3 separate regions of the Homo sapiens genome follow, and regions 2 and 3 are each reported to be linked to region 1. The links are microRNA targets in miRTarBase. Many come from high-throughput screens and were not tested one by one. Region 1 holds a microRNA gene; each other region holds the end of a gene's coding sequence.

Region 1 (4,241 bases):
AGAGTCTCGCTCTGTCACCCAGGCTGGAGTGCAGTGGTGTGATCGCAGCTCACTACAACCTCTGCCTTCTGAGTTTAAGTGATTCTTCTGCCTCAGCCTTCCAAGTAGCTGGGATTACAGATGTGTGCCACCACACCTGGCTAATTTTTGTATTTTTTAGTAAACATAGGGTTTTGCTATGTTGGCCAGGCTAGTCTCAAACTCCTAACCTCAAGTGATCTGCCCGCCTTGGCCTCCCAAAGTGCTAGAATTACAGGTGTGAGCCACCATGCCCAATCTTCCTTTGCTTCTTCATCATAAACTGACAGCATCTCCTTGTCAGGGAGACTTTTAAACTCTACTAAATGAAATTTCCCCATCAGCAAAATGGAGACAAAATTATCTAAAATTAGTAATACAAATAAAAATTCATATTGATTGTATGCTGACTCTGTGCTAGAGCTTAATGTACATGAATAGAGTGTCATTTAAGCCCTATAACAACCCATTTAGTATTTCCTTTTCATAGATGAGGAAGGTAAAGCTCAGAAAGTTTAGTTCACTTGAAGATGGACACACAACAAGCATGTGGCACTGTTAGGATCTTTTATACATAAACCTTGCCTTTGTTCTTTAAGAATTTAGCATTAACATTATTTATTTGTTTCTGTTTTAAGGATTATAGATTTTCAGTTGTGTGTAATACCAAGAGATTGCACTGTTTTCCAATTCTTATGAATATTATCAGCAATGGGCTACTTCAAATGTTTAATCACACACAACATATTCGAATTGAGTCAAGCCCATTTCCTCTTGTAAGTATTGGATTTACTGAGTCTAAACAATTAAGAATTGGACAAATAGCCTATGTTTTCTCTCTTTAGCTTTTAAATATCCATAAGTGATTGTTAAGCCTGAAAATTATTATTTTATCCTAATATTTTCAATGGGTTATAGCAAACAAAACAGGATTTTTTTTTCCTGCCAAGTTATCAGATAATTATCGTGAGGGAATACTTTTCAATATTTTGTCAGTCTTCTAGGCAATGTTTTGAAAAGTTGTACATACTTGATTGTGGAAGTGTATGAGAAAGAGAAACAGAAAAAAGAAAACACTGACTTGGAAATCAGGAGAACTTGTAACCCTGGTTACATATAAATCTATTATAATTAGTTAGTGGACCCTCCATTGACTAAATGTGTAGTAGACAGACTAATATGAAGGAGAATCTGCCAGTTCTGGGGCTATCTGTTGATTTATTTATTCACCTACTCATAGTTGCTCTATGTTGTGAGGGAGCCTAATACACACAGGCTGCATTGGATTCTGTGTCAGTTGGCTATAGTCTGGCTTCAGACAGTTTGGACACTAGAAAGCAGTGGTGGGAGACAGAAGAGCAGAGGACCCCCTACATTGGGCTCCAGTCACATCACCTCCTTCTGCTGTTCCTGAAGCCCAGAAGCAACAATAGCTTGCTTCTCACTTCACCATCTTTGTGGGATGCTCATCACCCACCTAACCATGTCATAAGGAATTGCACTCTAAGAACTTAACGTAGTCATGGTTTTCTGGTTAGACCCTGCCTGATACCAACAGGGGTGTCTCAAAGCTGACTCCAACTGTTTCACACCAGAAGTCTGAAACATCAAGAAGCAGGATTAGAAATGAAGCCATCCAAAGGGAAGTCCATTTTGTGACAAAAGTGTGAAGCTCAGTTTTGGCTTCACTGAATCAGTGGTGCTGGGAGTATATGCAAGCACAGGTTTTCTGTAAGCCATGGGAACAATGGGGATGAAATATACAGTACTTGAGATGTTCGTGACAGACACATACCTCCGTGAGTTGAGTATGACCGACTGATCACGTAAACAGGTCTGCTGCACAGGATGACTCGAGGGAAGGGGTGTCTGAAGGGAATTCTCCAGAAAGTGGAACCAGAGGAGTAGCAGAAAGAGACAGTGATTACCCTTCCTCTTTGGAACGATAGCAGCATGAACCTGTCTCACTGCAGAATTATTTTGAGACAGGCTTATGCTGCTATCCTTCAAAAGAACACATCCACCCAGCTACTGAGGTTTCCATCTCTGGGTTTGCTCAGAAAGACATGCTGCTCAGGCCTGAATTATGTGTTCATCAAAGGTCCTAACTTCTGAATTATTAGCTTCCTAATGCCATTGTGTTTGCTCAGGATCAAAATGGACTGAAGCCCATAGCTACTCTATTAGAAACCTGTTCCCCACTCCCACTTCCCCATGGCACACACCTTTCCTCCCTCATTCCTATGATGAAAAACAGAATTTATAGACATAGCCCTCAAAGTCTTAAATAAAGTTAAATAATTGTGGAATTATTTTGAGACAGGCTCATGCTGTTATCCTGTAATTATATCCATGAGGTGGTCCTAGATGCTGCTAGAGTGTCCACTTGGCCTAGCCTCAAGTGGATGCTGATTTGGGGGTAGTGATTTAAAGTTCCTTTCCCTGAAGTTAAGACAAGCAGCAACAAGTTTTCTTCTTGGTTCTGTGCTTCAGAACACATCCACCCAGCTACTGAGGTTTCCATCTCTGGGTTTGCTCAGAAAGACGTGCTACTCAGGCCTGAATTATATGTTCATCAGAGGTCCTAACTTCTGAATTATTGTTTTTTTGTTGTGGTAATAATACATGATATAAAATTGACCATTTTAGCTGTTTGCAAGTGTACAGTTGAGTAGTATTAAGTATATTCACATTGTTGTGAAATGCATCTCCAGAACTTTGCCGTCTTGCGGAATTGAAACTCGATGCCAATTAGCTTTCCCCCTCCCCCATCCCCTGGAAATAACCATCCTATTATGTTTCTATGAATATTACTAGTTTAGAAACCTTATATAAGTGGAATATTTGTCTTTTTGTAACTGGTTTATTTCACTTAGCATATTTTCCAGGTTCGTCTATGTTGTAGCATGTGACAGGATTTCCTTCTTTTTTTTTTTTTTTTTTTTTTGAGACCGAGTTTTGTTCTTGTTGCTCAGGCTGCAGTGCAATGGGGCGATCTCTGCTCACTGCAACCTCTGCCTCCCAGATTCAAGCGATTCTCCTGCCTCAGCCTCCCAAGTTGCTGGGATTACAGACATTTACCACCACACCTGGCTGATTTTGTATTTTTAGTAGAGATGGGGTTTCACCATGTTGGTCAGGCTGGTTCAGACTCCTGACCTCAAGTGATCCTTTTTAAGGTTGAATAGTATCCATTGTTTGTATATACATACACATTTTGTTAATCCATTAATTTGGACTTTTGGGTTGCTTCCACTTGTGAGTATTGTTGGTATGAATATGAATGTGAGGGTATCTCTTCGAGAGCTTGCTTTCAATTCTTTTGGAAATATCCCCAGAAGTAGGTCCTAAATGACTTTTGACTTCTCTTTGTTCTTTGAGTTGAAGATCAGAGTCACTTTCCCTCCCACCTTCGTGCCTAGATGGTAATGAGCTACACCTTTACTTTGATTTTTCAACATTTCAAAAAGTGCATTTTTGTGGCTATAATTATTTGTTTCATTTAACAAATATTCACTAGTTTAAGCTACCCTTTATATTTTCAGAGCCACATAGGACTCTGGACTGGGTTGCCGGATGGTTCCTTTTTCTTATTTTTGGTTCTATGTAGCATTTCTCCTTATATCACCATGGGCAGCATCAGTGATTACAAGGTAAGAAAAAGCAGGGAAAAGAAGAAATTTCAGGAATTTCAATATCTGTATTTTGAATGCTATGTGTTCAAAATGTTTTCTTCTGACAAAAACATTTGAATGTATGTTTAATTTAGATATTGTAGCTAAACCTTATTCTTGGCAAGTCAGATAATTTACTTCTAAAAACTCAAAATGCTTTTTATTCCAAAGTCACCTGAAAAGTACAGTGATTTTTCAGAGACTCCAATTAGTCTAAACCTTCAAAGGGAAATATTATAAATCTTTTGACCACATTATTTCCCAGCCACAAGAAGGAAATCATTGATGTTGAAATCAAAGGCCAAATTTAAGACTTGAATTCCTTTTCCACTCTGGAAATTGCAATTTTATGTTATATTTGTATTCGATTATGCCCATTATTCAGACAAAGCAGTTAAATCTATCAACGTTCACCATCCTGAGCCAGAAACTCTCCAAGATGTTTAGGTAAAGGTAAATGTATTATGTCCTCCAGGTCACAAAATAATACTTTTTTTTTTTTTTTTTTGAGATGGAGTCTCACTCTGTTGCCCAGGCTGGAGTGCAATG
Region 2 (4,241 bases), not on the chromosome of region 1:
GCCTTGAGCTGAGTCTTGAGTCATGGCTAGCAGTTCCCTCAAGCAGAATTGCTGAGGGGCTCAGGAGCATAGACTGAGAAATCAGATAGCCATGGGTTCAAATCCTGACTCTTGTCTGCTTATCTCAGAAAAGCTATTTACACTCTTTGTTTTTAAAAAAAGACAATAATAGTACCCACTCCTAGGGTTGCTATGAGTATTAAATCACCTAAATGTGTATAAAGTGCTTGGCATAGTAGTTTGCACCTTCTCAGTGCTCAGTAAATGGTTATTGACATGTTAAGTATTTCCCAACTGTATTGCTCCTTCTGTAATGTCCTATGTCCATTCGTGGCATTACTCATTCATTAAGCCAGAAATCTGAGTGACACCTTCAAGGCGTCCCATCTTTACATTATTCTCCAGATCCAGCTTACTGCACTTATGCCTCCTAAATGTCTCTCAAAGTCAACATCATTATCTCTTACCTGGACCACTTTAGCAGCTCCCTGAATGGTCTCCCTGCTGTCTTGTTGCCCCATCCAGTCCATTTCCTTTCTTTTGGCCGTAGTTTCATCTTTCAAATAAAACTATGAGGTTTCCATCTTAGCCTCCCACCCCCAACTCTATGGGTCCCTTCTGGCCGTATCTCCTCCACGCCCTCCACAGCCACCATAACCTGTCACCCTCTCCAGCCTATGCTTTCATTCCCAACACACATGTGCTTCCATGGCTTTGCCCAGGTTGGTCCCTTGGCCAGAAATGAATTTCTCCCTTCTCTTCCTTGACTACAAAATGCTAATTCATCCTGCAAGATCCAACTCACAAGGCAGAAGGCTTTCCCAGACTGCCTGTGCTATGGTTGTACCCTCCAAAACTTACACTGAAATTTGTCATTGTATTAAGAGGTGGGACCTTTAAGAGGTTATTAGGCCATGAGGGCTGCACTCTCATGGGTGGATTGACACCCTTATAAAAGGGCAAGTTCAACTCCCTCTTGCCCTCTCTTGCCCTCTCACCTGCCATGGGATGACACAGCAAGAAGGCCCTCACAAGTTGCCAGCCCCTTGACACTGAATTCCCCAGCACCCAGAACTGTGAGCCAATAAATACCTGTTCATTATAAGTTATCCAGTCTGTGGTATTGTTATAGCAGCACAAAATGGACTAAAACACCCTGGTTGCTAGAGGCTCTCTCCTCTCAATCCCTTGGCCCCTCTGGGAGAACAGGTTTCCCTTTGCACCATAACTTTCTGTTTATATGCTGGCCATGGCCAGACTGTAAGCAACTCAAGCAAAAGGACTGGACCTAATCTTTCACTATCTATGGGGCTCAGCATAACTACCTAGGCCACAAGAACCAAAGGAGACTCATCCACACCAGACATGGAAAACTCTATGAATAAAGTCATAGACCCATAAAATGCTGTATAAATGTAAAGGTTAAACTCAGACTCAGCCACTTCCTGGCTTCATGGTTTGAGGTAAGCTGTTTAAACCTCTCCAAGCCCATTTCCTCATCTGTAAATGGGGGTGAAAACAATATCTGTTTTACAGCATTGCTCTGAGTTCAAACCTCACCCATGCCCCCAATTTTAGAGATGATAAAACAACCTCAGAGAGGTAAACTGACCCAGCCCTTCTACTGGAGACCTTTGGACAGTCATCCAATTTAAGTCTTCCCAAAGCTGGCTGCTCAGAATCTTGTGAAGCACTTGTTAAAACCTTATTCGAGGGCAGAGTCTATTCACTAAGTCTTGGACCAGGCCCAGGAGTCTGTATGGGATCACCTCCAAACGGACTGCTTTTGGGAATTCAGATCACATTAGAGTTCTCCTCACCTTCCAGGCTCATGTGTGTACGTGGACCATCTCTTGCTTTTCCAAAGTTGTCTACCAAACCAGTCTATAAAACGTTCATGCCACTCCTCTGTTCAAAACCCTTCTATGGCTCCCTACAGCCCACAAGACCCAGGCCACCTGCCTCAATGAGACCCAAACACTGATATAATCAAGTCTCTGTGCTCCCAATGTCTCTTCCTCTTCCAAGCCTTTGCACAGCTGTTCCCTGATCTTGGAACATTCTTCCCAGCCCTGGCCCTCCTTCAGCAGCTAATCTCTAATCATCTTTCTGGCACTTACTCCTGTATTTTAACTGCTTGCTTATTTGTCTGTTTTTCCCATATGACCATAAGTTCCATTAAGGGTAGAAACTACATCTTGTTCAGGGCTATTCCTGTGGCGCCCAAAAGTGATAAATGTCTGCTGGATAAATGAATGAGAAGAATTAGCTGACCCAGTGTGGCCCAGAAAAGCAGCCAATCCTGAAGGCTTTTCCTCCTGCCTGGAGGTGACACACCAACCCAAAGGACTGCTCAAGGAGTGGAAAGGGGCTTTCTGGGTGGAGACTGCCATCAGCCCTCTCTGGTCTAAGAAGCCTGCAAAGCTAAAAGCTCATGATTTGGCATTAGACCTGGGTCCACCACATTTAGTCCTGTGACCTCAGACAGGTCTTGTAACCTGCCCTGAGCTTTGGCTTTCTCTTCTATTGTAAGGACCAGCCACATTCATGTAAAGCACTCACCCCTTGCCTGACCCACACTGACCACTCAATAAAGCCATCGATACTAGGTTCTGGTTGCCATTTAGCTTCCCAGGAGAGCTCTGTTCTTTGTACTTCCTCTTCCCCCACCCCAGCCTCCACCAAGGTGGCCACCCATAGGAGGCATCAGAAAATGCGGCAGGACTGAAGATTTTCTGCTGCTGATCAGGAATGACTGGAGCAGAAGGAACATTGTGCCCCTAGGGGAAGGGAAACCAATTATTTGTCAATACCTAACAATAACCACACTCCCGGTTTATTGAGCACATGCTGCGTGCCCGGCGAGCTCCGGACTTCCCTCTCTGGGGGAACCCTGCGGACTGGGAGGCAGAACGGGATACACCGAAATAGGAAGAACGGAGAGCTTGGCACCCTCCCCCTCTTCACCCCACCTGGGCCCCTCCAGGAGGGTCCAGGCCCTTACTGTGGGCATCAGGGGGCCGAATCTCCTTTCCACCAGCTGGCCCATCCCTGGAAGGAGCTCAGGCAACCCCTGCTATCTCCAAACCAAGAGAGTGGGCTCCCGGTCCCTTCTCCCTTCACCCCCGTCCTCCCACACACGGGACGGAGGTGGCCTCTTCTGGAGAGAGCAGCTGGCTCGAGTGCAGTTCTGCCGTTTTATTTTTCCTGGGATATTCAAGGGGATGTGGGAACAGCCACAGGTGTGGTGAGGGGAAGCCCCCATCTCCCCTCCCCAGCCGCTGGGAAAGGGGAGAGGCCCAGGCGCCCTGGTCCTGGGTTGGTCCAGCCACTGTGGTCCCTGGGCCCAGTGGGCAGAGGGCTGAGGATGGAGCCCCTGGGAGGGTGGGGCGGGCTCCTAGGCAGGGTTCGGGATTCTTCATAAAAAGCCACGAAGCTTGATCCCCACGAAGCCCAGCCCCGCGGGGTGGGGGAGGGGGGGACGCAGAGCCCAGATGAGGGACCCGGCCCGGCCTGGCCCGTGGGGGAAAGAATGGCAGAGATGGTGCCCATGGGGAGGAGGTGGGGACAAAGCGTCGGACCAGGTGGGCAGGGGATCCAGGTGAGGGGCGCAGGGCGGAGAGGCACGGCCCCCTGCCCAGCCCGGGCGCCTTCGCGTGGGATCAGGAAGGTAAAAAACCCACGAGAGTGTGACGGGCCCGGGGGCCGGGGCGTCCGGTGCCGGTGGGGCGGGCGCACGGGGCGGCCCGCGTTCACAGTGACCTCGACGCTGGGTGTACAGTACGGGTGGAGAACCGCGGGCCCGGGCCGGGCTGGGCGGGCCGGACCGGTCACAGCCTGGTCTGGGCCTCGGGGATGTAGATCTCGATGCTGTCGGCGCTCTCGGTGGCCGAGCTGTGGCGGAAGGAAGCGGCGCGCTTGGCCGCCAGGAGCCGCTTGCGCGCTTCCTGCCGCTGCCGGTCCACGGAGTCCAGGGAGCGCTCCTTCACCGGCACGCCCCGGCCCCGCAGGGGCTTCTTTGGTATCGGCGGAGGGACCTTCTTCTCCTCCTGCGGGGCAGAGGGCGTCGCTGAGCTGGGGCGCCGAACCATCCCAACACCCAGGTGTCCGCCCCCGCACCCCCGCGCCCAGAGTGCTGACGACCGCGTGGCTCCGAACGCGATGGCGCTCAGAATCCGCCACGGATCCCGTGACCTGAAGCCCCAGGTGCTCCTGTTCCGACAAGGTCAAATCCCCACATT
Region 3 (4,241 bases), not on the chromosome of region 1:
AAGAAAGAAGGAAGGAAGGGAAAAGAGAAAAGGAAGAGTAGAAACCAATATGGCATTTGGTAAGGCTGAGTAGTGGACACAGAGATTATCACTGTTGTTACTGATTTGTTACATGCTTCCCCACTTTGCTTAAAATATTTCATTTAAAAAATGAATGTGTCACACCTGTAATCTCAGCACTTTGGGAGGCCAAGGCTGGTAAACCACTTGAGGCCAACAGTTAGAGACCAGCCTGGCCGACATAGCGAAACCCTGTCTCTGCTAAAAATACAAAAATTAGTTGGGCCTGGTGGCAGGCGCCTGTAATCCCAGCTACTTGGGAGGCTGAGCTGTAATCCCAGCTACTTGAACCCAAAGGTGGAGGTTGCAGTGAGCTGAGATCACGCCACTGCAATCCAAGCTGGGCAACAGAGCGAGACTCTGTCTCAAAAGAAAAAAAAAGAATATGTCAGGTGTACTGTACATTTAAACAGACATATAGACATATGGTCCTTCTACAAAACTATTTGACAAGATATCAAAAGTCCTAAAAATGCTTCTTTTGACCCAGCAATTCCATGCTAGAACATACAGACAAAGATCTATGTACGGGAAGCCTACATTGCTTCAAGTATAGTGACAACTGCGTGGGAGGGTGGGGAAGTTGTGCTAAATTAACTTCCCAAATAAATAAAATGAGCAATTTTAATGAAATCTTCCCTAAATACATGGTGCCTGTGCTGGTACAATAAGTAGAGTACTGTGGACACAACTAACCTTTTTTTTTTTTTTATAATTTTTGATTAATGTAATTAACTATCAAAGTACATGTTAATAGATTCACCAATCCTAAAAGCTGTTGGGGTGGCCCTTTGCACCTCCCCACTTTCTGCTACATAGCTTGTTTCTCTGGCTCTTTTGGTTCTCGTTTCCTTTAGTTGGCTGTTATTTCTTGCTACTCTCACCTGCACACTCACTAGAAATCTTGCCTTCCCCCATCTAATCAGAACTTTAAAACATAAAAATAAAAAACCCAGGTAGCCAAGTTTGAACGCATCATGTCTGAAGTAAATCATGTCTGAACGAAGTCCTGGAGGTCTGTCTCCAACCACCTGAGGAACCTGTTGAAATGCTTTTCCCCAGGACCCAACTCAACATGTCCTCATAAGACTCTGGATCACACAGACACTTAATTTGTATGAATGTTAGAATTTGAGAACCTCTGGCTTATGAATTCTCATATGACAAAATATCCCTTGAATTCAAGGCTATGTCAGGCCAACACGTCACCTCTGGTGCAGCTGAGCTGCTGCCCAAAGCTGGAGTGGCTCAGGAGTCAGCCATGATGGGCTGGTTCCTGTGCCATGCCAGGTGGGAAAATCACAGAGACTTGGTGATCTCTGTTTTGGGGGCTTTTTTGAGACAGGGTCTCGAGAGCTCTGTCATCCAGGCTACAGTGCCATGGCACAGTCATGGCTCACTGCAGCCTTGACCTCATGGGCTTAAGCCATCCTCTCACCTCAGCCTCCCCAGTAGCTGTGACCACAGGTGCACATTACCACACCCAGCTAATTTTTTGATTTTTTGTAGAGACATGGTCTCGCTATGTTGCTTAGGCTGGCCTCAAACTCCTGGTCTCAAGCAATTCTCCTGCCTCGGCCTCCCAAAGTTCTGGGGTTACAGGCATGAGCCATCGTAGACTGGTTCGACCTCTATTTGGAACTGAGATCACTTGGGCAGGTGGAGGGTTAGATGAGGAGAGAGGTACTTCTGGGCTCCTCTATCTTGGGGTTGGCTGAGGTTTCCGATCAGTGGCCCTTGGATGATTGAGGCCAACCTGGATTCATGATGTGGGGAGAAATAGGGTAACTGTCTCATATTTTCCAAGTGTGAGACTGTCTTCACAGACTGATTAACTTCCACAACAAAATAAAATCATGCAGCCTATTTACCAGAGATCAATTAAATTGGCCACACTCTTTTTATAACTTATTCCCATTGGACTGAACATTTAATAGTTTATATTATACTCAGCTAAATTTCAATATAATCTACCACCCCCACTTTTACCTAGTACTTTTATCAAAATGATCGCTTGTACTTGAGTTTGATATGTTTACTTAAAAGCTTTTTTATGTCATTTAACGAATAGTCATTGAAATGTTGTCATCCAAATAAAAAAACAGTTTTAAAGCCGTATATATGTCTACTGCTTCTTCCCTTTAAAGAAAAGTTTCGCAGATTTTATCTTGCATTTTAAATTAAGCCTCCACTTTTCTTGGATATGCTGATGGTCAAACTATGAAACCTGTAACTGAAGAACACGTGCTAAAAGGATCATAGAGCATGTTATCCTTACATAACATACTTAGAGGCATGTAACATACTTCGACGCATGTATTATTACAGCCTCAAACACCACCACCACCACAACAAAACAACCACTCCAGAATGAAAATACTGGTATATTTGTATAATGCAAAGAGAAATACAGATATAAATCCTCAAAACGGAAGGTACATTAATAAAAATGTAGCATTATAAGCCAAAAATATTATATAGTACTTGCAGAATTTAGTCTTTCAGTTTAACATTATAATGTCTAACAAAGAAATATTATTTAAATTATAGTTCTCATTATTAATTTAAAACAACCATCAGTAGAACAGCACAGCTTAACCTAGCAAACATTTTAAGGAAATGCTTTGTTTCCTAGAAGGAGGATATCATTATATTCCATTCATTTATACCATAAACAACAGAAGAACAATTTTCAAAGTGGAAATTAGTTTCATAAGACAGAATAAAACTGGGCTTCTCAAAGCACAAGCCATTTCCATAAAATTAATTTTTTATTGGCAAAAAATACTTAAAACAATTTTGATGTAGTACTCTGCTTCTCAGAGCCCTCCCAATCCTCGAACCACAATCTATACACACGAACACATGCAATACTGTATTTTTCTCCACATCATTACTAACCAAAACACTTTACTCTTTTAAAACTTACAACTTGACAGAAATGTTTCCATTCAAGATTGCTATAATACAGAGAGCAGTTGTCACTGACGTGGTTTTTAGCAGCAGAAAGTAAACCGGGAACCAAATCTTACTTGTTACTTACTGCTTTAAAAAAATGACTGCCTTGCTACTGATCTCCATCTCTGCTCTTTAAGTTCAATATCAACACTGAGACTTTCAAAGAACCAGCGCAGCACAAGGACCCTGCAGCCGGCAATTCAGAGGGCATTTCGGACAACTTCCCCCCACCCCCCACTTTCTCCTGCTTCCAACAGAAGATCCTCAAGAAATCTAACTTGTGAAGAAGTCCCCCTAGGTTCCTCTACTTCACTGCAAAATGTAATGCCACTTGAGGTTGTCAAAAATAGCTTCTGTAGAAAACTGGCCATGGTCTTTAGGAAACGTTGCATGAAGAAAATTAGTACAGCCTTTATAGAAAAAGAAAAAAAGGAACCACACATGGAATAAAAGACGTCAGTACCGCTACAAAAAGACTGCAGGGCCTATTGTCAGGAAGAAAGTCGAGTTAGGAGGACGAATGTGCGGAGCTGGAGTGGGCTGAGCATCCTACTCCTCACCCACCCCACCCCCAAAGGAGTCAGTACAATCCAAGTGTCTGTCCACTTCGAGTCATTTTGAAGGCAGCTTAGAAAATTAAACAGGGGCCAGAAGGAAAAGATACAACGTCACCGTCCGAGCCAAAGGGAAAGGCTGGGTTGGGGGTCTATGTGGCGGGGCCTCCCTCATAAACCAATGCCTTTCAGGTCGCAGGGATGGGTCGCCTGGGTGGTCCGGGGGCTCTGGCAGCAGGGGAACTGGGCCCTGAAGCAGTCCCTCAGCTCCCTGTTGAAGAGGAAGCACACGACGGGGTTGATGCCGGCCTGCGCGAAGGTCAGCCACACGGAGGCCGTCAGGTAGGCCTGGGGGACGGCGCCGGGCCGCACCAGGACCCGCAGGTAGCTGGCCACGACGTAGGGCCCCCAGAGGAGCAGGAAGAGCAGCGTGACGGCGTAGAACATCTTGCACAGCCTCTTCTCCGTCTTGAATTCTTCCAGCACGAGGAGGCGGCGCGCGCCGCGGCCCGGCCCTGCGGGCCGGATGCCCACAAGCGCGGGCGGCGTGGGCCCGCGGCCGAAGCCCGCCGTCCAGTTGGCGGCCGCCTGGCCGGTGGCGCCCGGGCCGTGGAAGGTCCAGTCGTGGCTGACGGCGGGCACCAGGCGCGCGGGCCGCATCTTGCGGCG

What was found. The annotated mature microRNA hsa-miR-4524b-5p reads AUAGCAGCAUAAGCCUGUCUC and lies in region 1 at 2,001-2,021, opposite strand. An mRNA with a match to its seed (bases 2 to 7 or 8) in the 3' UTR can be bound and repressed. Matches are read on the target gene's strand: a 7mer-m8 pairs with bases 2 to 8, a 7mer-A1 pairs with bases 2 to 7 and ends in A, and an 8mer does both.
Region 2: the mRNA of DLGAP3 is a reported target of hsa-miR-4524b-5p. The part of its 3' UTR that is shown has no 7-base or 8-base seed match.
Region 3: miRTarBase lists GPR27 as a target of hsa-miR-4524b-5p. Seed matches in the 3' UTR shown: 8mer at 3,057-3,064.

What each region holds. Positions count from the first base shown.
Region 1 is chr17:69,097,350-69,101,590 of GRCh38, reverse strand. It overlaps MIR4524B (microRNA 4524b), which reads right to left and starts at 2,049; the gene lies at 1,935-2,049. It overlaps ABCA6 (ATP binding cassette subfamily A member 6), which reads left to right. Exons shown (of 39, transcript NM_080284.3): 22 at 657-794; 23 at 3,564-3,671. MIR4524A (microRNA 4524a) reads left to right here and starts at 1,959; the gene lies at 1,959-2,027.
Region 2 is chr1:34,862,253-34,866,493 of GRCh38, forward strand. It overlaps DLGAP3 (DLG associated protein 3), which reads right to left. Exons shown (of 12, transcript NM_001080418.3): 12 at 3,184-4,049. The coding sequence ends at 3,831. Among named protein-coding and RNA genes, the nearest start is that of SMIM12, 4.6 kb to the left of the region's middle. RefSeq lists a silencer at 3,673-3,722 and enhancers at 3,883-3,962, 4,013-4,112, 4,163-4,241.
Region 3 is chr3:71,754,680-71,758,920 of GRCh38, reverse strand. GPR27 (G protein-coupled receptor 27) reads right to left here. Exons shown (of 1, transcript NM_018971.3): 1 at 2,425-4,241. The coding sequence ends at 3,744. It also overlaps a transcript of EIF4E3 not described here. Among named protein-coding and RNA genes, the nearest start is that of GPR27, 2.9 kb to the right of the region's middle.